Regions from separate parts of the Homo sapiens genome. Here region 2 is linked to region 1. Evidence: fine-mapped expression QTL. A gene starts in region 1. The other region holds a variant in brackets. All regions are shown on one strand. Distances are between the middles of the regions.

Region 1 (13,220 bases):
ACTCATGCCTGTAATCCTAGCACTTTGGGAGGCTGAGGTATGAGGACCGGTTGATCCCAGGAGGTTGAGACCAGCCTGGGCAACATAGTGAGATCCCATCTCTACAAAAAAAAAGTAAAAATTAGCTGGGTGTGGTGGGGCAAACTTGTAGTCCCAGCTGCTTGAGAGGCTGAGGCAGAAGAATTGCTTGAGCCCAAGAGGTCAAGGATGCAGTGAGCTGTGATCATGCCACTGGGTGAAAGAGCTGACTCCACCTTGGGTGAAAGAGCTGAAATCCTATCTCTAAAATAAATACATACATAAAAATAAAAAAGAAGACAGATTGTCAAACTAATTGAAAAAGCAAGTGGTTATTTTTCAGAAACACATTGTCAAAAAAAGACAGATTGAAAGTAAAAGAAAATATATGCAACAGTGTTTGTGTTGCATATATGTGTATATATAGATGAGAGATGAGACAGACACAGACATAAATACATGCTGACAAGAATGAGCCTACAGAGAGAGAAGTCCTGAGAATGATAATTCAGTGGTGAGTAAACATTGAATATGTTTCCTGAGAAGCTTAAAAATAAGTGATACTATAGCTTCCAAGTACCGTATTTCATTTGTTTTCTTGTAATCAAGAAATTGAGTACTTAAGATCATACAGAAATACATGAGAGTCAGAAATGGAATCTACATTTCCAACTCTTAGTCAAATTGATTAGTACTTCAAAAAGAATTTATCAAGAGTCTACATGTCATAGTCACTGACAGATAAGATGCAGTTCCTACTCTAAATAAGCTTAAGGTATAGTATTTCTTCTACATATTGTTACAGTAGGTAGCTAGTCATGCATGAGTGGGGCAGGAGAGGGTTGCCCCCACCCACCAGAATGTCAGGTGACTATCAGGTGATGGTCACTCTGCTTCTCTAAAATAACAATTGGTCACAGCCAGCACCAGGGAGAGGCAGTTTCTCAACTGATAAAAACACCTGAAATTGATAATTGGCAGCTTTCAGGAACTGGGCGAATGAGCTCAAACATGCACATTAAGAGTCAAAATGGCAGAGTATGACCTTCCAGGGGCATTCCACCAGAATTTGAAAGAAAGCCTCAGATAAGCATGCATAAAACTCCAGTAAACACACTGTGCATGCCCACATCCCAAGCACAAGCAGGGCACCATGCATGTGGGTGGCTCCCCATAACCCTTAAGGGAAGGATGAAGGGAAAGGGGTGCAAGATGCCAGAAGTAGGCCAGCATATAAAATCCTAGGTTCAAGGATGAACGAGGCACTTGACCTCCAAGATGCCTGCTTGGGTCTCTCCCAAGTGTGTTTTCCTTTCTTTCCTGTTCTAAAGCTTTTTAATAAACTTCTGCTCCTGCTCTGAAACTTGCCTTGGTCTCTTTTACTGCCTTATGCCCCTCAGTTGAATTCTTTCTTTCGAGGAGGCAAGAAATGAGATTGCTGCAGACCCATACAGATTTGCCACCAGTAACTCAGATATTCACCACCCCTAACAATATTATCCATTCAATTTATTTCTATACAAATATCACATGCATCAACCAGCGTGCCCAAACAGAAATAAGTCAATTAGAAAGTCATTAACTTTAGCTCAAACTTATACTTGCTTTTTTTGGTATTTTTTAACATTACATTTCACTACCAGAAAGCATTCCTGAATTGCATAAATAGGTATAACATATATTCAAAGCTTCAAGAAATATTTTCACAGAATCTAATTCTAACATGGCATTAGTCTTACATTAAAAGAAAATTACCCTTCAAACAAAATATAAATAGGACCACAGTACAGTTTCCCAGAATAGGAGGGCTTATTCTATAAAATTCTAGGCAATAGTCTTTTAAAAGAGGGAGAAATATTGATGGGGATGGGGAAGACAGAATAAAGAAATTTTAACAAATGACTTCTGATAGCCTTTCATTTTCCTCAGAAATATAAATTTCAGCTCAATATCATCATAATAGCAAGTCCCTACTGACATCCTTTCTAAGCAAATCAAAATGAAAAGACACACTTATCTGAGCACTCTGGGCAACTCTACAGCTGAGATTATGAAATGAACAAAAAGACTATTTGTCCTCATGAACTGCTAAAATTCCAAACACTGAGGTAAATAAACTCTGATTTAATTCAAGAGCAGAGATTTTAACTTATTTCCAATCGGCCCAAATAAATAGTCCTGATTAAAATACAAAGTACCTGGATTCTTCCTCTTGAGCCTTCTTTTCCAGCAGTAGAGGGAAAATGACAGACACCCTACCAAAACTTGCCCAGAAGGCCAAAACCTCAAATATGCCTTTGGAAGTATAACAGAGCTAACTTAAGTGCTAGGTCACCACATACCTCTTGCTCTAGTTTCCTATTAATTTTTAACAGTTATTGAACCCAATAAATGTATCACTATTTTCCCTCTTCATTTTCTGTTCTCTCTAAATCCGTCCCTCTTAGGGATTGCCACTACATTTTACTCACATTATTTTAATAATTTTCTTTATAGAAGTTGTTTGACCCCTATTGGCACCATTAGGGCATATTTTTCTTCTGCAATAAAATACTCAAGGTAACTTCTGGAGGGCTCTGCATTTGCAAATGGTTTCTTTCCTGAGACAACAAAAGATGAAAACTACAAATGTGATCACAGTAATGAGTAATAAAATACTCAAGCCCCACTTTCAGAATTTGGGGAGGACCAAATCTCCTACTAATCCTCCTCAACTAATTCACATGGTTTCTTGAAATAGCTACAGAACGGAGTGTTAGTAGGATTTTACATGACAATAAAAGGACTATCTCCATAAAAGTACTGGATCTTTTTTGAGGTGATAGAGCATTTAAAAAGTGCAAACTTAAAGGAAACTTAAATTCAACTTAATTTTAAGGAAGTCTGATCAGCCAAATACTCCATAAAAAACTTGAAAACTATTAAGCTACTACCTTGCAAGACTTATGCTACAGATACAACTGATTAAGAATTATTAACTGGGATACATAAAATATTCCTAAAAAAGTAATGTCTAAAAATCTCAGGTGAATATGAGAAAAAGTCTTAAACAGGTACTTAACAGACAATAGGACACAATCATAAGCTTATGGGAAAAGGCTTAATCTCATTATCAAAGAAATGCAAATTAAAATCATGGTGTGTATTTCATACCTAAAAGGTTGGCAACAATTAAAAATTCCAAAAATAAGAGTTGGTTAGGAAGTGAATCACTCAGACTCAAGCCCTACTAAGGGAATATAAATTGGTACCACCACTTTGGAAAGCAATTGGACATTGTCTAATAAATGTGACAATATGAATAACTTTTGACCCAGCAATTCTTCTTCTAGAGAATAAAAATAAATGAATTACAACTACATGCAATAACCTGGATGAATCTTATAAACATAATGTCGTTAGAAACTAGTCATAAATACACATAAATAAATCTTTCAAATTTGTATTTGCTGAACTAAAACTATAGGCCACATTTTTGGAGTAAATCTTTAAACAAAAGCAAGGAAAGGATTACTGAGAGTCTGGATTGTGGTGAAAAATTACATTAAAAGAATGGAAGTAAGTAAATGAAAAAAATACATACCTAGCAAGAGAACCTGCCCCCAAAATTTCAGCGTAGGTTCTATTTTCCCTAAGTGTCGGCTGGTCTGAGAAATAAAGAGAAAGAGTACAAAGAGAGGAATTTACAGCTGGGCCTCCGGGGGTGATGTCACATATCAGCAGGACCGTGAGGCCCCGAGCCACAAAACCAGCAAGTTTTTATTAAGGATTTCAAAAGGGGAGGGGGTGTATGAACAGGGAGTAGGTCACAAAGATCACATGCTTCAAAGGGCAAAAGGGAGAACAAGATCACATGCTTCTGAGGCCAATAAAGATCACAAGGCAAAGGGCAATGCAAAGATCACAAGGCAAAGGGCAAACTTAGAATTACTGATGAGGGTCTATGTTCCACTGTGCATGTATTGTCTTGATAAACATCTTAAACAACAGAAAACAGGGTTCAAGAGCAGAAAACCGGTCTGACCTCAGATTTACCACAGCAGGATTTTTTCCCCATCCTAATAAGCCTGAGGGTACCGCAGGAGACCAGGGTGTATTTCAGTCCTTATCTCAACTGCGTAAGACAGACACTCCCAGAGTGGCCGTTTATAGACCTCCCCCTGGGAATGCAATTCTTTTCCTAGGGTCTTAATATTTAATATTCCTTGCTACAAGAAGAATTTAGCGATATCTCTCCTACTTACACGTCTGTTTATAAGCTCTCTGCAAGAAGAAAAATATGGCTCTATTCTGCCTGACCCCACAGGCAGTCAGACCTTGTGGTTGTCTTCCCTTGTTCCCTAAAATCACGGTTATTCTTTCTTTTTCAAAGTGCACTGATTTCATATTGTTCAAACACACGTTTTGCAATCAATTTGTACAGTCAGATACAATTACAGTGGTCCTGACGTGACGTACATCCTCAGCTTACCAAGATATGAGGATTAAGAGATTAAAATAAGACAGGCGTAAGAAATTATAAGAGTATTATTTGGGAAGTGATAAATGTCCATGAAATCTTCACAGTTTATGTTCAGAGACTGCAGTAAAGACAGGTGTAAGAAATTATAAAAGTATTAGTTTTGGGAACTGATACATGTCCATATTAAAATGAAATCTTCACAATTCATGTTCCTCTGCCGCGGCTCCAGCCAGTCCCTCCATTTGGGGTCCCTGACTTCCCGCAACACATACTATGCAACAATAAGCATAAGAAACCTAAAGTAGTAATGACTAAGATTATAAAATATATATATATCATATATCTATATGACAAGATCATAAAAACCATAAATCCGAATAATGGATTTCAAGATTTATGTGGCAAAAATTGACAGAATTAAAAGGAGAAATAGGAAAAATAACAATTCCATAACCATGAGTGAAGGTGTTTAAATCCCTTTTAACAATTGGTAGAAAACTTGAAAAAAATCAGTAAAGGCATAGATTTGAACACTATAATGACCTTACCCTAATCGCCTCAACAACTTCAAATGTACACGGCATGTTCAACAAGATAGGCCATAAGTTAGGCCATAAAATCTCGATACATGTAAAAATACTGAAATCATATATCTCAATGAAATTAGAAATTAATAACATTAAGCCATCTAGAAAACTCCCAAATATTTGAAAATCAAACATATTTATGTCATGAGTCAAAAAGAAATCACACTGGAAATTAGGAAATATTTCAAACTGAATGATAAAGGAAGAATAATATAATTTTTAAAATTATAAAATGAAGCCAAAGCTAAAAAATTGATAAGCCACAACCTAGATTGATTAAATAAAAACAAGATAGGACACAAATAACAAATAGCTCAAAATGAAAGTGGGCCTATTATTATAGATCCAACTGACATTAATTAGGGAATATTATGAACAATTTTATGCTAATTAATTTGGTAACTTACATGAAATCAATTACTTGAAAAAATTTATTGAAGAATAAATGAGACCAAGAAACAATAATTAACGACCAACTCAATAAACCAGGATTGGATCCTGGATTGGAAGTGAAATTGCTATAAAGGTCATTACTAGGACATTGGTGAAATTTGAATATGGACAGTATATGATTATTGTTACATCAGTGTTACATAGTTTGAATTTGGTATTTCATGATGGAAAGCAAAACTTTGATGATTGCTCCAGTCTGTTACTGTACAGCTGAGATTAACTTTGGAATTCTATAGGATCAGAGGTTACAGACTATTTTTAAATTTGGAAACTTTTCAAGTAAAAGCTTTAGGATTTTTGCACTGTGTAACAACCTAGTGAAAATTTCAAAGTCCTTGTCACTTTGTGTTTTAGGATTCACAGAATACATGCTAATGGGATTATGAATCAAAGAAGTAGGACCAAATTGTTCATTCTTAGGTTTAGGGTCAAGAAATTTACAGTACAGTATCTTCTACTTCTGAGTAGAAAGATCTATGGCAGACCAATTCTCTAAGAACTAGAAAAGCAGGATTAAAAAGAACAGAAAAGCAAAACACTGGGAAGAATTTAAATATCCAGTTGAATATTGGTTAAATAATTGCATGACATCTAATTATACAATAATATGCTATTAATCAAATTTGTTATTCTTGTCTTTAAAAACATGGGGAAATGCTTATAATGTGAAGGGGAGCATGATGCCATAGTAATTGTAAAATACAGGAAAATAATTGTTTTCATTTGGAAATATACCAAAATGTTAAGTAATTATGAGCGGCAAGATAGTTTTGTTTTTTCATTCTTGTTTTTGCTTTTTTCCTTCCCAATTTTCTAAAAAGAACGTGCTACTTTTGTAATCAGAAAAATGACACGTTAAGAAAGGAGGGAGGAGTTTATTTTATGCAGTTTAAAACATATATTACATATGTAAAACCATTCTATTGAGTCTGAATCTCTATTTTATTAGCAGGCTTTATTTAAGCATACCTACTAAGCTTACAGAAGTTCCATCTAAGTAAAATTAGTTAACTGATACCCTTTTTATGTAGCAATCATTAAATTTTTAAAAATGTAAACCCTTTAAAATTACATCATATGTCTGATTATCTCATTAAACAAGTTAGCAAGCCTAATTTAATCTTTCAGGAAAACTAAAGGCCATTATTCTGATATATTCACTGTATTGAACTATAAACCAGTGATGCCCTCTAGTGGTACTGATGGACGTACAGTTTACCTTCCCTGTTAGGATGTGTTTACCCTCGTCGGCTAAATTTACCAAGACTGTTGTTTCAGGTGGCAGTACTTGTCTCCCACCTCAATACCAGCATCTAGATCCATGTTCTCAAAACATAATCAGCTTTTGAAGCATGCAGAAGCTCAGGACCTACTCCAGACTTACCAAATCAGAATTTGCATTTTTAAAAGATCCCCACATGAAAAAATGAATAAAAGATCCCCAAATGATTAACATGCGCATTAAATTTTGAGAATATTGCTCTAGGCTACAAAGGAGAAATTTCTTCTGTCCTAACGATCACATGAAGCTGCTTGGTTTTTGCAGTTACCACTCCAGTTGTAACTGTTTTTCCACATAGACCTTCTCATCCCTTATTTCCATCTTGCCCTTTGTTTTTCCGTGTCTCTGGATCAGAAGGAAAAATTGTATAGAAAATGAGATAATGAAATCCTGTACATAAAATTCCAATGATTCCATGCTGAATCTTTTACACAGCAGAAGCAGGACATACAGCAGGCCTTCTGTATGTAAACCCTTTAAAATTACATCATATGTTTGATTATCTCATTCAACAACAGCAAGCCTAATTTAATCTTTCAGGAAAACTAAAGGCCATTATTCTGATATAGTCACTGTATTGAGCTATAAACCAGTGATGCCCTCTAGAGGTACTGATGGATGTGCAGTTTACCTTCCCTGTTGGGATGCGTTTACCCTCCTTGTTGGTTAAATTTACCAAGACTGTGTGTTCCCCATCTGTGGATTCAACCAATTGTGGATCAAAAATGTTCGAGGGGAAAAAAAGATGACTGCATCTGTACTGAATATGTATACTTTTTTTCCTTCTCATTATTCCCTAATCAGCATAACAACTATTTACATAGCTATTTACATTGTATTCACTATTTACATAGCTACTTACATTGTATTCACAATTGTGAAAGCTATTTACATTGTATTCACAATTGTGAATACTATTTACATTCACAACTATAACATATAACATATTATTCACAATAGTTATGTTCACAACTATTTACATACTATTCACAATTGTAAATATTATTTTATAGCTATTTACATAGCTACATATTTACATAACTTTAAAATTTACATATTTACATAACTAAATACATTGTATTCACAATTGTAAATACTATTTACATTCTATTCAGTATAAGTAATCTAAAGATGATTTAAAGTATATGGGAGGATGTGCATACATAATATGCAAATACTACATCATTTTATAAAAGGGGCTTGGGCATCTGTGGACTTTGGTATCCAAGTAGGTGTCCTGGAACCAATCCCCAAGGAATCAACTCTAATGTCTAAGCTCCAGAGCTCCAGGCACTCTGACACCTGAAGTTCTTGAATGAAGTGCCTGTGGATGATATTTGTAGGGCATGTCTATACTGTTAACTAATTTTCTTCATGAAGATTCCAGAATTTATATTCCCAACTGAATTTTGCCCTCTTCAAAGGAGTAACCCTGGGAAAGAGAATAAATGCAACTTATTTTGTTAAAAACCCTTCTATCACTTTTCTTTAGGAATTGTCAGCAGTCAGAACAATATAAGACATTCCTTCTGTCTCATTACTCTCCAGCCATATCTAAAGCTTGAAAAAAAAATCCCAAATTTAACACCTTTGTCATTCAGAACCATCTGATAACCTGCTATTTAAGTAATTTCCACAAATTGAGTGCATTAAAGCACAAAGACTTGCCACTCTAGTGAATACTCAGCACCACTTTTTAAAAGTTATAGAGAAAAAGGTTTAAAATAAGCATCATCTCCTCTGAAGAGAATATGCAATTAGACATAGAATCTGGCACATCTCTTATGAGGAAGAGTCACAGCACTCAATATTTGGCATATATTCTAATTTTTTCAAAATTATACTTACTGGAAAGAAATGGCAAGGCAGAGCGCAAGCAAATTTCACTTAAAAAATTTACAACACACAATACACTTTAACAAATCTACTTTAATTCTAAAAGAAATTAATCTAGAACTGTCAGTAATACACAACATACTTTTATGTTTCTTTTATAGGTATCTATCTAATAAAAGTTTATTTGTGTATGTGCAATGCATAACTCTATCTTAGATATGAATCCTAACAGGATGAAAATACTTTCTTGCAACTACTTTATGCTTATGAAAGGTGTGAACTTGCAATGTCCTCCTGTCTTAAACCCAAGTTGACAGTGCCCTCTCAAAACTTTTCATAAATAATGACCTAATTTCATTTAAAAAATGGTTTCAGCAAATATGAAAATAGAAAGTCCGTTATTTGTCCATTTGTAATATGAGAAAAAAAAAGATGATACATTCCTCTACAGAAAAAGTGGGTTTAGAGAACAGTTCTGGTAGTATTTCACATGGTAAAGTATCAAAAGATCTAATGAGCAGCCCCCTTGCTCAGGGAAAGACAGTGATTTCAATGTGTTTCTCTTCCGAATTGCTTAGTAACTCCAAGTGATTTTCAAATTGGGGGGCAGATTACTGGCACTGAGTTCATCAAATTTAGATCTATCTTGAATAGGGACATTATAGAAATCAAGAACATCTCTAACCCTGCACATCTGGTGGAGTCTGGAGTTAGGGACTACATGACCCAAGTCATCAGCTAAATGAGCCAGAAGATTGAACTTTAGACGACTATCTTCCAGGGAGATGTCTTGCCAATTACTAGGAAGAGATGAACCAAAAACTTCTTTAACGTAAGATTCCAAACGACTCTGGAGATCTTCAGGTGGTGTGTATGCTCGGCTTCGTAAAGGTGGACACACTAGGATAGGTTCCTTTTTCTCTTCTACTGTCTCAACAACCACTGGCTCTTTCTCTTTTCTGGAATGATCAAAAACAAACAGACAAATCCATTAATGAAGTTGACAAACACCAGACCAAATCTTGCCTACCAATCAAAATCAACAATGGCATGCTGATTACCACTGGGGACTACTGAGAGTAGGAAAGAATATGGTAGGCCCCTGCCCTTAGAACGTTCATGGTTGAACTGAGTTGGGAGAGACAGAAAGAAACTAAGTACATATTTTACATACTGTAAGAATTCCTAAGAATGGGTGAAGAAGTAAGGTAAATCATTGTCTGGGATTCCCCATCCTCCAAGATCCCACCCCAATCTACCTTTCTGGTCTTACCTTTCACTGATTACCTACATATACTCCATGTGATACTCTATATCCTGTGTCCCAAGCACACTCCCACTTTCCTGACACAATGTGTTGGCTCAAGTCATATCTTAAAATGCCTGTCTTTTATCTTCACCTATGGAAATCTTGCTTATTCTGTAAGTCTTAGGATAAAATTGTTCTCTTCCAAGATGCTTTACCTAATTTCCAGAATCAAATATAATTGTGATTTCATGTGATCTCTTCAGCAGTTTATACTGCTCTCAGAGTGTATCACATCCTACCTGACTTTTAATTTTACTTACATTCTACTTCACAGAAAGTGAAGAGATGGAAAAAGATATTCCATGCAAACAGAAACCAAAAAGAACAGGAGTAGCTATACTTATATCAGATAAAATAAATTTCAAGTCAAAAACTATAAGAGATAAAGAAGGTCATTACATAATCATAATGAGGTCAATTCAGCAAAAGCATATAACAATTATAAATATATATGCAACCAATATTGGAGAACCTAAACACATAACACAAATATTAATAGATCTAAAGGAAGAGATAGACTACAATACATTAATGGTTGTGGATTTCAACACCCACTCTCAATAACAGACAGATCATCCAGACAAAATCAACAAAGAAAGACTGGAATTACATTCTACACCAAATGGACTTGACACTTAGAGAACATTTCACCCAACTGCTGCAGAATACATATTCTTCTCATGAGTACATGGTACATTCTCCAGGGTAGACTGTATCATAGAACACAAAACAAGTTTTAACAAATTCATAAAACTCAAAATCATATCAAGGACTTTTCTAACGACAATGAAATATAACTAGAAATCAATAACAAGAACTCTAGAAACTATACAACTACATAAAAAATAACATGCTCCCAAATGACCAATGAGTCAATGATGAAATTAGGAAGGAAATTTTAAAACGTCTTGAAGCAATAAAAATGAAAACACAACACATCAAAACCTATGCGATACAGCAGAAGCAGTAGTAAGAGGGAAGCTTATAGTAATAAACATCTACATGAAAAAAGAAAAACTTCACATAAACAATCTAAAGATGTACCTTAAATTAGAAAAAGACAAACCAAATCCAAAATTAGTAGAAGGAAAGAAATAAGATCAGTGTAGAAATAAATAAAATAGACTAAAAAAGCAATAAAAAGATCAATGAATTAAAAAGTTGGTTTATTGAAAAGTTAAAATCAACAAACCTTTAGCTAGACTAAAAAAAACAGAGAAGACACAAATACATAAAATCAGAGGCAAAAAAGGAGATATTACACTGATATCACAAAAATTTAAAGGCTAATTAGAGATTGTTACAAGCAACTATAAGTCAATAGATTGGAAAACCTAGAAGAGATGGATTAATTCCTAGACACGGACAACTTACCAGGATTGAATCACGAAGAAAAAGAAAACCCAAACAGAAATAATGAGAAAGAGGCTGTAATAAAAGTCTCCCATCAAAGAAAAGCTTAAGACCTGATGGCTTCACTACTGAACTCTAGCAAGCATTTAAAGAAGAACTAATGCCAATCAATACGAATTCTACCACAGCTATTCCAAAACACTGAAGAGGAGAGAATACTTCCAAACACACTCTACAAGGCCAGCATTACCCTGAGGCCAAAACCAGACAAAGACAAAATAAAAAAGGAAAACACATTCTACAAGACCAGCATTACCCCGATACCAAAATCAGACAAAGACAAAATAAAAAAGGAAAACTACAGTTCAATATTCCTGATGAGCACAGATGCAAAAACCCTCAACAAAACATTAGCAAGCAGAATTAAACCACACATTAAAATGATCATTCACCATGATCAAGTGGGATTCATCCCAGAATGCAAGAATGGTTCAACATATGCAAATCAACAAATTCGATACATCACATTGATAGAATCAAGAACAAGAATCATGTGATCATTTCAATAGATGCTGAAAAAGCATTTCATACATTTCAACATCCTTTCATGATAAAAACTCTCAATAAACTGGATACTGAAGGAACATACCTCAACATAATAAAGGTCATGCATGACAAACCCACCAAACAAGGACACAAAACAAGCTAGCATCATTGAATGGGAAAAAACTCAAAGCCTTTCCTCTAAGATCTTGAACAAGACAAGGATGCTCACTTTCATCACTTGTATTCAACACAGAACTTGAAGTCCTAGCCACAGCAATTAGACAAGAGAAAGAAATAAAGTACATCAAAATTGAAAAGAAGTCAAATTGTTCTTATTTGATATATGATCTTACGTATCATACGTAAGATATATGATCTTATGTATCATACGTAAGATATATGATCTTATATATCTTGTTGATATATGATCTTGTATTTAGAAAAACCTAAATATCCACCAAAAAAACTCTTAGAAATTATAAATTCAGTAAAGTTTCAGAATACAAAAATCAACATACAAAATCAGTAGCATTTCCATATGCCAATAGTAAACAATCTGAAAAAGAAATCAAGAAATCAATTCCATTAACAATAGCCACACACACAAAAAATCTAGGAATAAACTTCAACAAAGAAGTAAAAGGTCTCTACAATAAAAACTATAAAACACTGATGAAAAAAATTGAAGGGGACACACAAAAAATGGAGATATCCCACGTTCATGGATTGGGAGAATTGATGTTGTTGAAATGCTTATGCTACCCAAAGCGATATACTGTCAATGTAATCTTTATCAAAATACCAATGACGTTCTTCACAGAAATAGAAAAAAAAATCCTAAAATTCGTATGAAACCACAAAATGCCTTGAATAGCCAAAGTAATGCTAAGCAAAAAAAAAAAAAAAAAAAAAAGACCACACCTAACTGACCCCACCTTGCTTCTAACCTTTAAGCTGTCCTTGTTCATTCCTGGGCATAGGCCAAACTAACCTTGGGAAGGAAATGAGTTTACAGTTTGACTCTGAAACAAAATTGGTAATAGCCTTTTTCTGAAAAGACCTCCCTCTTGCCTGGGAACCAGTTTGCTTTTGTAGGACTAACAAATTAGCTACAAGATTAGAAATTATGGTTAGGGGTCATTCAGACTCCGGCTGCAAGAGTCTGATCCTCCCCAAATTGCTCCTGGGATAACACTGCTATTGTAAAATTCAAGGTCAGTGCTTGAGATATTTTGCAGACCCTGCACTCAATGGATTAGCTTACACCACCAAAGCCGGTAATCTGGCTCAATCAGTTCTGTGATCCCACCCAGGATCATAAGTTGGCAAGAACTCACTTAGACCCCCTATGATTTCATTTCTAACCCAACCAAT
Region 2 (16,653 bases), 40 kb before region 1:
TGTCTTATCCATTATAACACTAGTAAATCTTAGTTTCGTGGTTTTCAGTACATTAAGGTTTAATTCTTCAGCTGAAATAATACCCGTATGACCTATCTTTGTAAGGTATTAGGAGCCAAGGGGGATAATACATGACAAAGGGCTCTGAAACAACACTGCTTTTCAGCCCCCACACCTGTTGGGTATGGCTATGGGCACAGACTTACATAAACACACTCTCTGTTATTGTCGTTGTTATTTTCCTTTTAGTCTGTCATCCCTACCTGCCATTGTTAGACCTCTAGCTCTTTGCAGATTTTCCATTGTTTGTTCTTTTTAAGGGAAAATAAAACTTCATGCTCTTGTCTTTGCTATTATGCTTTTCTAATAGAGTTATGAATGCCAATGTTGTTTGTAGTAAAGAGACTACCATATACATTTGATTGGCCACTTTGTACCCTGCTCCATTATAAGGAAAATGGGGTCTTCTTCCCTCCCTCCCTTCCTTCCTTTCTTTTTTCCTCCGTACCCCATTCCACAAAAGATTTGAATCTGTTTACTGACAAAGAGTAAAACAGTTAAAGAGTAAAATTAAATAAAATAAGATTTGGGAAAATATGGACTAGGATTACAAGTATTTATCACAGAAAACCTGGAACATGAAAAGAAGGGCATTTTGTGGGTTGTAAGTTTGGTGCCAATCTACTGATAGCCAAAGGAAAAAGGGCTGCCTGGTCAGTTATGTTGTTCTAACTATTCTCAAAGAAAAAATTATCAGTTCCTTAGGGGAAAGGAAAAAGTGAGGCCCTTCCCAAAAAGATCTTTAGCTCTAAAAGATATTTCTCACATGAGACTTTGGCATATACATCTGAACCATTTTTCAACAATATCTTCACAGAAATAGCAGTAATAGGTGTCCCCCTAAAAGCTTGACTCTCCAAGGGGTCCTTAATTTTATTTAGGGGATAATTCAAAATAAAGGCTTTGGGGTTTGTATTTGGGTGCAGAAAAACTTCTGTGGAAATAAATAGGCTCCAGTAGTGCAGGTGGAGGAAAAGAGCAATTGATGCCTGTCTTAGTTTGTTGTGTATGCTATCAGGGAATACTTGAGGCTGGGTAATTTATAAAGAAAAGAGGTTTACTTGGGGCTTATGATTCTGCAGGCTGTACAAGAAGCATGGCTCCAGCATCTGCTCTTGATGTGGGCTTCAGGCGGCTTCCACTCATGGTAGAAGGAGAAGGGGAGCCGTCATGTACAGCCATCACATGAGAGGAGAGGAAGCAAGAGAAAGAGGGCAGGAAGATGCCAGGCTCTTGCTAACAACCAGCTCTCAGAGGAACTAAGAGTGGGAGAATGCACTCATTACCACAAGGACCTCAACAAAACATTCAGGAGAGATTTGCCCCCATGACCCAAATACCTCCCAAGAGGCCTCACCTCCAAGAGTAGGGATCAAATTCAACGTGAGATTTGGAGGGGTCAAACATCCCAACTACAGCAATGCCCAATTCTCTACTGTAGATAAGAGATTAGTCATCAGAGGTAGAAGAGGATCAAGGGGAAAACGTCTTTTTGCATTTACTTTTAAAAAGTGATTTTCTGCAAAGTACACACTCCCACCTGATAAACTCATTAACAAACAGCACTACTGGCCATTTTACACACACTTAAATTCATGGTCAATACATTAATTTTGAATAAATAGAATGATTATGAATATATTTTCTCAATATTGGGAAAGTTCTTGACGGAATGTGGCATCATTTCCAACTTCATGAGTCTTTCATTCATGTTAGGGAGATGGGACATGTAATATTAAAAAGAGTGTCTGGTGTCCCCTGCAACATTTCAATGTTCTCTAGGTATTAATATTTTCTGATATGATTCCTTCCTGTAAGCCTCTGTATCTGCTGTCCTCTTTGTCCCCCAAAAAGATATCTTTAAGAAGACATCATTGATTCTTCCTCTCCTTGCTATTATTCTCCTTCTCTAAACTTCTGTACAATGCATTAGCCCAATACAGCTTTTATTTTTATAGTTAATTATTTTAATTGCTTACTATAACCACTCTTCAGCATGCATCCTGTATCTAGTTTTATCCTCCCAAATGAGCCTCTCAAGGGTAGTAACTGTGTATGAAAACTTTAGGGATCCTTTCAACATTGATATAATAAATTATACAATGTACATGTTTAGGAGTTATAAGGTTTATAAGGGGCAGAATAAATTAGCACCAAAAATGTAATGGAAATAAATATTATATAGTACATGTGTGATTGAAGATTTGAGGCTTTCTTCCCAACTTGTAGTTCCTTTTTATCTGAGAATAGTCTCCTAAAGCCCAGAGCTATGATCACTCAAGAGCTATGTATGTACCTTGTGGCATCAGCCCTGGTGCCATTGCTGATTGGATTAGAGCTGAATTTCAGATTCAAGATGTGGCAATGATGTTTTCACCTTGTTAGCTTAGAATTGAGACCCAGAGATCAATAGTCACTCTCTCAGGGTCAAGACTAAGGTGAGGCAAGAGAGGCACCTAGAGGACCAAAGTTTACTTTCATGTCACTGAGAGACCAAGCCTCTAAGGTCTTCCTGATATTTTGCACCCTTGAACCTCTCTTTCCTTACCCTGGCCCTGGACTCACATGTAATTGAATCCATAAAATTCAGAAGCTGAAGCTGTATCCAGATAATCCCAGAAAATCAGTCTTAGGGAAAAGATGTGGGAGTTTGAGGGGAGGGGGAGAGGGAGAGGAGGGGAAGGGGGGGAAGGGGAGGGGGAGGGAGAGATGGGGAGGGGAAGAGGGAAGGGGAGGGGGAAGAGGAAGGGGACGGGGAGAGGGGGGGAACGGGGGAGACGGGGACAGGGAGAGGGGGAGGGGGAGATGGGGGGGAGAGTGGGAGGGGGAGGGGGAAGGGGAATGGGAGGGAGAGATGGGGAGGAGGAGGGGGAGATGGGGAGGGGCAGGGGGAGGGGGAGGGGGAGATGGGGACCAGGAGAGGGGGAAGGAGAGAGGGGGAGAGAGAAGTTATGAATGAATAAAGTAGATATAAAGATGAAAGGCAGAGAAAGTAATCTTACTAGATTTCAAATTCCTGGTTCCAACCACTCCTGAAGGTCAACTGTACTTGAGTTCTTTGAGACACTCTGGCATCCTTATAATAGAATCCCTTTGTTTACATTAGCTTGAGTTGATAACTATTACTTGCAATCAAAGAGTCAACTAGTTCAACTTTGCATTTCACAAACTCGGGATGATTGACTTCTGTAAGGTCATATCATGGTCAAGAGAGAAAAGGTGCCAAGTTTCCTGACTTAGTTGCATGCTTTTTTTTTACTGGCCAACAGACTATGATTCAAACTTTGGGAAAGCATATGACTTTTACTTTTTCTAAAAAGTTCTACTGAGTGAGAAATTCCTCTAGGATATCCCAACAGTCTGGGGTTTCCTTTTGGTCATATATGAGAGTCTACCAACAGAGAAAATCCCAGCATCAAACTCCTTCCTAAAACCAGGCTGGCTATGCCCCTAGACTATGTGATGGAATCAATCTCACCCTGTTATATGAAGGTCTGGTATCCCACATCACTCACCACCTCTCTGTGTTGTCTCTGCTACTCTATATTAGTGAAGGCTACTAATGTCAAGGTACAGAAATCTCCAAATTTTGAGGCCCCTAGTCCCAAAAAGAGATCTTTCAATATAATCCCACTTAACCTTTACCAACAGAAATATATCTAACCCGGAAAAAATGATCTTGTTATCTAAACTGAAAAAACATATTATACATTTTCGTGTATAGATTCCTTTCTGGTGAATTGATAGCATCAGCACACTGTAAACTAAGGAGAGCAGTTGTAGGATTTATTAGTTTAGCTACAGAAAAATCAGTCTTTTCCCATGAGTGTGGGTACTTTTTTATTCTCAGCCCACTACTATCAATTCTCCTTAAAGCTGGGGTATTTGTTTGTAGACACCTGATTTTCAGTCTGTAAGAAACACAATGATTCCATCATGTTTCTGTCCTTGAATCACTTGTTGAATTGTATGTTAGGACAGTGACTGTCTTTAGGACTCCGAGCATGCACATTAAACAGCCACGAGACATACAGTCTGTATCAGTCTTTTCTCACGTTGCTGATAAAGACATACTTGAGACTGGGCAATTCTATTCTCCCCTTAATTTATTTTTCTCTAACAGCAATTATTAAGCATTTACTAAAAGCTAGCTACTGGATAATATTAATTCCCATAGTAAAGCTTTTTCACTTTTCAAGGCTCTTTCAAGGTCATTATTCCCTGTGGGAATGACAACCCTGTAGGAATAAAAACATATTACTATGCTTACATTACAAATTAGGAAATAGAGCTCAGTGAGTTAAATGATTTAGCCAAGTTTGCCTATGTAGTCAATGGTGAAGCAAGAATCTTAACTCATACCAGGTGACCCAACACATAAACCTTAACTATTTTCCCCAAATGAGAGTAGAAATATGAAAACTCACTCTTCTCTTAACCTACCCCTCCTTTTTTTCTTTCTCAATACTTTATTTTTAATTTCATCTTCATTTTTCCTGACTCTGAACCTTTTAGTTAAGTATACACCCTGTTGCATACTTTGGCAGGACAGATAGTGAAATAGTAGAATTATAGCCCACAAACTCATGCGTGCACAAATGTATTTTTTTCTATTTTTCTAGATTCCAAGTAAATTCCATTTTAAGTATTTGTTCTAAGATTATATCTCTGCCACCTGGAGGAACAAAGACTCAAAATAGAAATTACTTGGAATCCAAGTAAGTTTTCTGTGACTTCTATAATGCTGAAAGACTCGGGAAGCTTATATATTATTGTGCATTCTTCTGAACCTGCTGTACAATGTATGCCAGAGGCTCCAAATTCAGATACCCATGGGGACCCAAGCAGGTAATATAAATTTATAGATAAGGGCCAGGAATAAATGAGATACAGAACTGTAAAGAACTAAAGACAACCTAGTCTTTAGCCCAGTCTAAAGGTATTCAGTGGGCAACAAAACAAGATATGAACCAAACAAAACATACTCATTTATGACTTCTGGAGTGCATATCAGCCATTAGGATTTTTATAACTCAAAAACCAAAAGAAGATTTTTTCCCTCTTTCTGATGTGTTACCTTTTTTTAAGGCAATGGATATCAACTGGCCTCCTTTAGGTAGAAGAAGGATGACAAAGTAAAGTGGAAATGCCAAAATGAGGGGATGAGAAGTGGGAAGTGAGAACCCATCTATTAATATGTCCAATGATAAAGAATGAGTTGAGCCGGGCGCGGTGGCTCATGCCTGTAATCCCAGCACTTTTAGAGGCCGAGGCAGGCAAATCACGAGGTCTGGAGTTCGAGACCAGCCTGGACAATATGGTGAAACCTCATCTCTTCTAAAAATACAAAAATTAGCCGGGTGTGGTGGCATGCACCTGTAGTCCCAGCTACTCAGGAGGCTGAGGCAGAAGAATCACTTGAACCCGGGAGGTGGAGGTTGCAGTGAGCCAAGATCACGCCACTACACTCCAGCCTGGGTGACAGAGCAAGACGCTGTCTCATAAAAAAAATAAAAAAAGAACAAGTTGACACTGGCTGGCCTCAAAATCCAAAGCCTTCAAACCTTCTCCTTGCCATCTCTCCCCATGCTTAATCTATATGACTTTTTCCTACTTTTCTATTACATTTGTATTACCTTATTCTCAGTTGGATCCCAACTAATCCATATACATGGATTCATACCCTTGTTAGTTGATAAGGCTTATTGCTTCTCAGAGCTAGCTCCTCATAGATTCCAGAGTGTTAATTTATAAGATCCTTAAGGCTTCTCCTGTCCAACACTTCATTGTCATAATCATCAATAAACTACCTACTGTATAAGGGACACCCATCTGAAGAGGTCTCTCCTTCCTCTGGGCCCTCCAGCATGCCTCTCAAAGCACTTAATATATTGAGCCTTATAATCATTTATGTTGTGTTTTCTCTCTCCTATTAATCTGAAATTTTCTTGAGGGCAGAATTCTGTTTGATTTATTTGTCACCTTTACTGTATACAGAGCCCTTCACATACCATGTGTTCATAAATGATTTTAACTGTACACTCTTCATTCCCACAAACTCTCGTCCTTTTTCCCAAATCTTTCTTCCTTTTTACAGTTTTTTTTTTTTAGTCTCTACAATATTGTCAGACTGATCTCTGCAAAACTCAAAAGTCAAATTACTCTTCTACTTTAAACTTCCAGTAGCTCCCGGATTCATTTAAGGGTAGAATCTAAATCCTTTGGCATAGCACTTAAGACCATTTCCAAGGGAGTGGCTCTACCATGGAGCCCTAGAGACTCTACATGTGTCTACATGGGATGCACAGGCAAAGCTTGGACTGCCATATGACCTAAATCTGGGTGGAATGCCCTGTGATCCTCCTAGGAACATGGCAAGGGAGGAAATCTTCAGAGAAGGCTTCGCGAGGTTGTTTTCTCATCTGCCTCTATCTTGTGGGATGCTGCCATGAGGCGGTTTTCTGATATAACTCCCAGGTTCCAGAGGAACATGAGACTTCCAACTTAACCCCTATGCTTCCGTAGGGCAGAACTGCAGCTCTATAGCCATTTAGCTGCAGTCTGGAATTGACTGGCCAGCAATAGGGTGTATCACAACTCTTGCTGAAGCCATCTGACCCCTTTTGTTTCAGTGCCATCCTTTTGGTGTGTGGGATGAGGACTCATAGGGCTGACATCTTTAGCTTCTCTTTTCTTCACTATGTATATAAGTAATAATCTGGCTGAATCTAAAATTAGTTCATTATTTCTTTACCAGCTGAATCTGTAAGTGTTAGACTTGGACGGTCCTTTGTGTTTGGCACCTTTCATAATCTGATTCAATCAAAGCCTTTAACCCTGATCTATTTACTAGTCTAAACAACTATCTCATTACAAACTTAACATATGATATTGTGAAAGTCTGCTTCTTTATCTGACTATCCATTTTCTGCTCTATACAAATACAGTAGTCACTAGCCATACATAGCTAATTAAATGTAATTAATTAAAAATAAATAAAACAAAAATCTAGTTCCTCAGCCACACTAACCACAATTTAATTGCTCAATAATCACATGTAACTAGTGGCTACTATATTGAACAATGTAGATACGGAACATTTCTGCCATTGGAGAATATTCTATTTGATAGCACTATTCCAGATTGTAAATTCCTCAAGGACAGAAATTCTACCCTGTTCAACACTGTGTTCTTCAGTTCTTAGAATAGGGCATGACACATATTTACTAAGCAAGTGGCTGCTTAATAAATATTTGATGAATACATGAAAGAATAAATGATATGCATAAAAGAAAAAAATTGAGTAAAATTTCTGAGAGACGATGAATAAGAAAGAATAGAAGCCAACTTGACTGTTTATATTCTACTTCTGAAGATGGGAGATGCTTCAAGATCTGATTGAATATATTTTCCCAGCTTCCCCACTTTTTTGCACTGGAAGCCAGGACTCCTCACACTGCAGGGTATTCAGGAAACAAAGGATACAAAGCAGTGGAGAACAAGCAGCATTAACCTTGCTGCCTTCCACAGGATTCGCCTTGAAGTGGTTGGGGAGGGAGCCCTTAGCAATATGGAGACAGCCTTATTGGAGGCTGAACATGAAAGCAATGTTATGGAGTCTGGAGGTCCCTGACCACAGTAAAAGGGATCAAGTCTACATCACTGGGAGACAGTGGCCTATTAGAAGAAAGAGAAGTCAAAAACTGGTAGAGCGCCAAAAAGAGGGGCAGAAAACAAAGAATAAAAGAACAGAAGGTCACCAATGCAGATTAAAATTACTAATCAAGAAACAAAACTCTTGTTTTCTTTAGGAGCCTGTTGCTTTTGTCATCACTGGCACTTCATCTCTCAGTCCAGGTAGAAATACCGCCCCCAGCTTACCTCCCCCTACTCCCGTGCACTAAATCGCAGGAAAAGTGTTTTGAAAGTCAAGAAACAATCTCTATAAAATTCTTATTAGCTGGACCCTTACTACTCTGGAAGCCCAGCTGTGCATGTTGCCTCCAAAATAGTCATCCAGCAATCTCTTAGTTAGGTTGATGCATCTGACAAAAATCTGTATTTCAGAGCAATGAACCACCTGAGATGATGATTACTCGTCCCTCAGAGAACTGTGTTTTCCTCTGGGATGACAGAAACAAACACAGCAAGATGAAAGCAGCCTTTCCAGATGCCCTGCAGGCAGATGTATCAGAAAGCAGACCCTCTCTACAAAGCAATGACATCCCTGACTCCCCAGATACTCACCGTGAGTTCAGCTGCAGGAGGCAGACTAAAGCAGAATGGCTCACTGAACTTAGAAGCCAACTTAGAAGCACTGGATGCTTGCCTGTTGCTTGCTAATTTATATCATTTAAAACAACCCAGCCTATTGAAAGTTGAAATTGTCTGCACAGAAACCATCCACTACTCCTGTTTTTAAGTCCCCAGCGACAGGGCTACCAGCAGATGCTGCCGAAGGGTCTGGGCAGAGCCCAGTCTCTCTAGTCTGCTTTTTAGTTCAGGTGTTCACAATGGAGTCTAATATTTCATCACATAGCTCAGGTTTCTAAGCCTTTTCTCTTGACTCACTCAACTCCTGGTTCTAATCTCCTTCGCTTTAGTTCCTTCTGTGTCTCCTCCTCTAAGTCAGTGGTCTCTGGACAGTTTCCTCTGGAACAGTGTCTAAGAGAGCAAGTCCCAAATATCAATTTTAAGAGCAATGTGAGCTGGTGGCATAAGACTCACCTGAGGAGCCTGTTAAGTAAAGATTCCTGGGTCCTGCACCTGAAAGTTCTGACTTGATAGGTCTGAGATAAGGTTCTTGCATATGTATTTTTAACAGGGATTTCTAATGTGTATCCTAATCTGGAAACCACTTTTCCAAAGGACAGCAAAAGCTTACCCAGACAAAAATGCTACCCAGAACTGGAACTACTGAAATTTTCATTGTCCCATTGTTAATCCCATCAGCCAAAGGCCATTGTCAAAATGTATAAATGAGCTAACTTACAGATTGTAGACTCTGCTTTAGGCTGTGAATTCCTTAAGGGAGGGGCCTTGCCTTTTTGTTTTTGTATCTCTTGCAGCCAGTAAGCTATAGTTGGAAGATCACTGGTCTCTGGACTCAGATTTAGATTAGATC[C/G]CTTACTTCATTACTCTGTGCGACTTACATCAAACAAATTACTTAACTTTCCATGTGCTTCAGCCTTCTAATTTGTAAAATGGGAGTAATATGATAAAATGGAATAAAAGTGAAACATAAGACTTGGAAAAAAGCGGTTGATCTTGGAACTCAAAGACATATTGGGATGTCTAGAAGAAGAGGGAGGTATTTTGGTACACAGTTCTCATACTGGATGAGAGGTACATTGATGAGATAGCAAGGACCCCATATTCATGACTAATTTCCAGAACCAGATACAAACATAGGAGGTAAAGTGGAGGAGAGGTGCAGCAGAAATAGAAAGTGTTGTTTTTACTAAGAATCTATGAGAAACACAGAAAAAGGTAGGCAAGTCATGATGACCCAGGTGGCAAAGCGAAGTACAAGCTAAGAAGTACATCCAGGCCTTCTCCACCCTGCTCCCCAGAACAGGGAACATGGTACTCCATAGACCATCAAGGGATATAGCCAATGAGAATTTAGGACACTGGCAAAGCACTGGACGTAAGGTGTTCACCATATACAAGGGAGGTATTCGCAGTTGTCAGTAGTAGGTATGAGCCACACACACACACACCAAAAGTGAGAGGACATTCCTCAACTTTGGTCATATCACTGAAGAAGGCCTGGAGCAAGCAGAGCTAGAAAAAGAAAAAATGAATGGTCAGCGTCACAGGGAAGCAGATAGAACTTATTGATTAACACATGAGACATCCCTAAGGATACCCTACAAATAACTGTCAGGGGTGTTTTCAGGAGAAAATATTTTCCACATTCTCCAGAAGGATCAGGAACTGTAAAATAGAGGTTAAGGTATAAAGTAGTTGACATATTTTAGAGCTTAATGACTGTTACTTGATTTTCCTTGCAAACAATTGAAGAAGAATTTAGAGTGCCTGGATACCCTAACATTGACAAATTATTTTAAATAAACCTCTGTTTTATTTGGTGTATTTGTATTATTCCATTTGGAAAAATTATAGGAAAACTTAAAATATGACACAGCTATATATGTGCATATTTGCTTAACTAAAATATATGCACATGCAAACTGAAGAAAAACACATATGGCCATCCAGATGACATAATCAAGCATACTTGTAATCATTAGCAGCCATCCTTAACTATTGTGAGATATAGTTCCTGATAGTAACCAAGATGACTGTGAATTTGCCACCATCCATATCCATAATGGCAATCACATAGCTATTATGGTATCAGTTCCATATTCATTCAACAATAATTCATTAAGTTCCCATTATGTCCAAGGATGTTTGAATTAACCAGGACCCTGTCCCTGCTCAAGAAATTCGTAGACTAGTTCAGGGGTTGGCAAACTACAGTCTGCAGACAAAATCCAGTCTCTATCTGTTTTAATAGATAAAGTTTTTGTTTATGTGCTATTTACAGCTCCTTTCACTTTACAATGGCAGTCGATGATTGCCATAGAGACCATATATTTTGGAGCATTTCAGATTTCAGATTTCAGATTTTCAGATTAGGGATCAGCCTGCATAAATAGTTTCAGTTTCTTTGGAAAACCCTGACTAATACAGCCTATGATCCTAAAATATTTACTTTCTACCCCTTTATAGCAAAAGTTTGCTGACCCCTGGTGTAGCTGAAAAGATAGAAAAAGTAAACAGGCAATTCTAATGGAATGTGGTAAGTGCACTTCCAAAAATAAAATCCTAGGAATACTCAGAAGGGGCACCTAACACATAGCAGGAAAGATTCCTGGAAGTGGTACCTATGAGTGGAGCTTGACACCTGGGTAAGGACTCACTGGATAAAGAAGTATAGAAGTGCCTTCTAGAAAGAAGGACAAGTTTATTTATAGATATATCCCCTTTGTGGGACTGCAATATAATAAAAGCTTCATGAGGGCAGGCATTTTTTTTTTACTGTTTTATTCCTTAAAGTATCCAATCACCTGGAACTATTCCTGGCTCATTGAGGGTGCTCAATAAATATGCACTGAATGAATTCAAAACATTCAAATGGCTGGAGTACTGGGAAGATGAGTTTGGAAGGAAGAAAGTTATATAATCAAGCCAAACAACAAAGTGAGGCCTCAGAAATCATATGCTAGTTTTTGAACATTGATCAGTATTTACATCACTAATGACAGATTAGTTTGGACTTAGAAAACAGTCCTTATCTGCTGGATTCTGGCCTCCAAACCCAGTGATTATTACTTGAGGGATTTTAGAGGTTGAGTTGGGAGGGGATTAATGGAGACTGGGAAATTTATGAATTTTCTCTTTGGAATGTACTTTGAGACTAGTGCCCAAATCTATAGAAAGGGGAAAGTTTTTGAAATGACAATTATTTTTAACTCAAGCCTGTATCCACTAATGCATCATCTTTTTTATTTACTTGGATGCAGTAGCTGTGACTAGGGGGTTTAGAGCCAACAGTTTTAATTAGAATGAAATAATGAAACATTGTCCCTATCTTACCTCATTTGCCAATGGCTGATTGACAAACCTAAGAAATGTTATGAATAGCATGCTCATGGAGGAAATAACTGGCTAGTTTTAAATATGTCAGTATGAAAATACTACTTTAAATGAGAGATTTCAATTGTATAGTGAAGGAAAAAATGATTTCTGGCTAAGGCATAAGTAAGCTCTATGTTTTACCCTCATTTGGTCACAATGTAGATTGGTCTTCAATAACACTTATCAATGATTATTCACAACTAAAATTAATCTTCCAGTTATCCTAGAATATTATTTTTCATTTTTGAATCCCAGGAAGTATTTCAGGACTCTTGTTATAACCTACCACACTGAACTGCTCCTGACTACCTGCCATGCTTAGCAAAAAGGTCTTCTTTTTCCTAACATAAATTTTAGTATCAAATTAATTTATACCATGTGTCATGTAACATCTCTTATCAGGGAAATTTTACTTTATAGATTGCAATCTTGGAAGTATATTATTGTGCCCATTATAATCTTTTAAAGTATCTTTTTAAAAAATCTAGAATTACTGACAAAAAGGTTAAAATTTAGGAACATCTGATTGCTTAAGTCATGGATAAGGAGAGGGGAAATGGTAGCAAAAATAAATGATTTTGCAATGAAGCCTATTCTTTTTTTTTTTTTTTTTTTTTTTTTTTTTTGAGGTGGAGTCTCGCTCTGTCACCCAGGCTGGAGTGCAGTGGCGCCACCTCAGTTCACGGCAAGCTCTGCCTCTGGGGTTCACACCATTCTTCTGCCTCAGCCTCCTGAGTAGCTGGGACTACAGGCACCTGCTACCATGCCCAGCTAATTTTTTGTATTTTTAATAAAGACGTGGTTTCACCGTGTTGGCCAGGATGGTCTCGATCTGCTGACCTCGTGATCCGCCCGCCTTGGTCTCCCAAAGTGCTGGGATTACAGGCATGAGCCACTATGCCTGGCCACAATGAAGACTATTCTGATGGTTTAAAGTCACCAGGTATACTTAGGGATTCCATGAAGTTTCCACATAGCTACAGCACAATCAATGGAAACTATGACTCTTTTTGTGATAGATCCAAGAATGTTCCTAGTCATTAATGGAACCTAAAAAATGTTCTCCATAAGAAGGGTAAATATAGAAATTGAAGTGTTTCTAGCTGTCCTAAGATAAAAACAATGACGGTGTATGACCAAAATTTATTTCAAATTTCCAGAGAACAGAGTTTAATAGACTATGGGAGAAAATCTCAATATAATGGAATGGAGAAAATATAGGGATAAATCCCCGAATTCTAATCCCAGTCCTGCCATTAAATTAATTGCAAAAAAAAAAAAAAATTCAAGGCTCTGTTACTTACCTATGTAATGAGAAGGCTGGCTCTAAACAATATTCAAAAAAGTTACTCGTTAGGTAGCTATTGTATTTTCCTCTAATTTGGTCTTGAGGTCTCTCTCAGGAACATGGGTAAAAAATCTTGCCCTACCCTGCCAGGGCTCCAGGGATTTGGGCATGAATGTTTATAGTGTGTCTTTCATGGGACACTTCTGTATCAGCAGACAGCCTAATGCCTGGGTGTCCAACCCACGACAGGGTGTTCCTCTCACAGAAAACTTGTTTATACTGGGAGATGCCTTTGGGGCTCTTGTCTGACCTGTGTCCAGTTTATTCCTACCAAGACAGCCCCTCTCTAGGACAGCCCTGATGGAGAAAGAAGGTAGAAGGTAGATTTGGGTGTGTTGGTCAGGTGAGACACAGAAGAGGCAACTTAGCAAAACACACGAAATAACAGAAGAGCGTATTACTTACAGATCAGAGAACAGAGGGAAAGAGCACCAACGGGAAGGGGAGAGCTTTCCAGGATATGCACTCAACCAGCATGTGGGGAGCAAGAGAGAGAGAGGGACCTTTGGTCCAAAGCCTTTATTGGGGTTCAGGGTGTTACCCAAGCAGGTTTCCCGAGGGGAGTTTTAATTGATGGGTTTAGAACAAGCAGGCAATAGTTCCAAGAGGTCACAGGCAACTGAGAGGTGGTTGCTGAGCATATCTGCACAGTTCGTATGAGGTGTGGGGGTCAGTGGGCAAGTCAAGTAAGTTGTATCTAGCTGTCCCCTAAGGAGGTGGTCACAAAAAGGCATTTGTATAAGCAGATATCTGGATCAGCCACAGTGAGGAAGTTGAAAGAGACAGAGAACTAGAAATTGTTGTCAAGGGTGACTAAGTCCTGCTTCTGGGATGAGAAAGTTCAACTTATACTCAAAGTGGATACATTTGAGTATACATGCATATAAAGGCAATATAAAATTATAAGAATTCACTATAGTAGCATCTTTTTAATTTTTGCCATATCTGGCTACTCCCTGACCTATTACTTGTAAGGCAAGAATAATATTTAATAATATCTCTCAATGCATTTACAATTCTCAGCAATCATTTTATTGTTCTTCTGAAGCTTTATTACATTAAGGCAAAGACCTGGGACTTATTGTCCTAGGGAAGAAGGCAACCCTGCCTAGAAAGGTCTAGGCCTTGACCAAAGGTGGGAATGGATTATGAAAAACTGAAAATCCCGGAGGAACCTTTTGTTCTATTTCCTGTTTGGAGTTCTGGAAAACACAGTAAAATGGGACATTGTGTGTTTAGACAAATAGAGATTCAAAGATAGCACACGCAAGTCTCTTTTTGCTCTCCTGTTCTGTGAAAGGTTTCTGGAAGTTTCCATATTCTCATAGTGATGGGCTTGGAAGGCAGCTGAGAGTTGAAGGCCAGTAAGTCTCACCTGAAAACATTATGGCAATGGGTGATCTAGGATCACGTAACTGTCCTTGGCTGCTTTATTTATAAGGAAATAACATAGATTCAGTAATTTATAAGTAATAGAAATTTATTTCTCACAGTTCTGAATACTGAGAAATTCAAGATCAAGGCACTGGCCGGTTTAGTGTCTGATGAGGGTTTGCTCTCTGCTCCACAGATGGCACCTTGTTGCTGCATCCTCACATGGCAGAAGGAGCAAAACCGCTGCCTTCAACCTTTTTAAGGCTGATCCCATTCACGAGAGCAGAGCCTCTGTGATTTAATCACTTCCCAAAAGGTCCCACTTCTTAATACCATTACTTTGGGGGTTAGGTTTCAACATATAAATTGGGGGAAACACCAAAATTCAGACCATAGAGTTCTGCTTCTGGCCGTCCGAAATGTATGTTCTTCTCACATGCAGAATGTATTCATTCCATCCCAGTAGCTCCCCAGGCCTTAACTTGTTCCAGCACCAATTCAAAAGTCTGAGGTCCAAAGTCTCATTTAAATCAAATATGACTGAGACTCAAAGGTGTGACTCATCCTGAGGCAAATTCCCCTTCAGCTGTGAGCCTCTGAAATCAAACAAGTTACATGCTTTGAAAATACAATGGTGGGATAGGCACAGGGCAGACATTTCCTTTCCAAAAGGTAGAAGTAGGAAGGAAGAAAAAGATAATAAATCCTGACTAACTGTAAAACCCAACAGGGCAAATATTAAGGCTCAAGAATAATCTTCGACTTGACATTTTACCTTCTAAACACTTGGGGGGTGGGGGGTAGTCCTGGCCATGACTTTGCTGGGCAAAACCCATATAGCATTTCTCACATATTGGAGTCACATGCCTATGGCTCTCCCAGGCTGGAATTGCACACTGGTGGCTCTACCAGTCTGGGGTCTTGGGGGTGGCTCTGCTCCCACGGTTTCACTGGGCATTGCCATACTGGGGTGGGGGCTGTCTGTGGTGGTCCTGCTCCTGTGATAGTTCTCTGTCTGGGCTCTGAGGCTTTCTGGGGCATCCTTTGAAATCTAAGTGGAGGCAGGCATGCCCTCATGACTTGTGCACTCTGCACTTTGGTAGAGATAGCACTGCACAGACACCACCAAGATTTACTATATTGCCTTCCAGAGAGTGGCCCAAACTGCACATGGGCCTGCGTGAACCATACCTGGGGCAGGTGAGGAGCATTGCAGCAGAATGCAGGAAGTGGAGATTTGAGGCCACCTGGCGTCAAGGTCCTACCGGTTTCCAAGCTTCCTCTTTTGATACAGATATGTTGCCCCCAGCCTTGGCAGTCTGTGCCTATGATAGGAAGGACAGCACAAATAAACACTGAAAGGCCTTTGGTGTCATTCTTTCATTATCTTGATAAATAGCACCTGATTTCTGCCTCACCGTACTAATCTCCTTATCAAACGGTTACTTAGCCACACCCTTGGTGTTCTCTCTTGAACACAGCTTTCCACTCTATACAATATGACCAGGCTGAGAATTTTCCAAATCTTTAAGTTCTGCTTCCACATTTTATTATAAGTAGTCAAAATCCTCAACATTTTGCTTAGAGATTTCTTCTAGAACATGAACATGATTTGGCCAAGTTCTTTTGCCCCTTTGTAACAGAGATCATCTAGTCCTCAGTTGCCAATAACGTGTCCTTCATTTTTGTCTGAGACTTCATCAGAATGGCCTTTACCATCTGTATTTCTGTATTATCAACATTTTGATCACAACCACTTAGGTAATCTCTAAGAAGATGGAGGCTATTTCTACAGCTTCTTCAACCTCACCTTCTTCTGAACCCTCACCTGAGTTGCCCCTAAGGCTCCTTTCATGGCAGTGGACCTGTAAACTCTTTCCATCCTTTATTTATTATGCAGTTCCAAAGCTGCTTTCCCATTTTTAGGTTTTGTTATTAACACACCCTATCTCTCTGTGCCTATTTCTGTCTTTGTTGGTCTCTGCTGCTATAATGAAATGCCTTAGACGGGGTAATTTACGATAGAAATGTATTTCTCACAGTTCTGGAGCCTGGGAGGTCTAAGATCAAGGAACTAGCAGATATGGTCTCTGGTAAGGGCTACTCTCGGCTCCATAGATAGCATCTTGTTTCTGCATCCTCACATGGTGAAGGCGGCAAGGCACCTCCCTTCAACCTCTTTTTTATTTTTATTTTTTTATTTACTTTTTTTTTGTTTGAAA

What was found.
Region 2: its variant is fine-mapped to the expression of BAAT in prefrontal cortex (BrainSeq, PIP 0.95).

The regions. Positions count from the first base shown.
Region 1 is chr9:101,381,254-101,394,473 of GRCh38, forward strand. It overlaps BAAT (bile acid-CoA:amino acid N-acyltransferase), which reads right to left and starts at 3,753. Exons shown (of 4, transcript NM_001701.4): 1 at 3,602-3,753. MRPL50 (mitochondrial ribosomal protein L50) reads right to left here. Exons shown (of 2, transcript NM_019051.3): 2 at 6,380-9,597. The coding sequence ends at 9,213.
Region 2 is chr9:101,339,652-101,356,304 of GRCh38, forward strand. It overlaps the pseudogene TRMT112P4. Among named protein-coding and RNA genes, the nearest start is that of BAAT, 37 kb to the right of the region's middle. RefSeq lists an enhancer at 14,876-15,170. The variant C/G (reference allele first, on the strand shown) is at 9,185.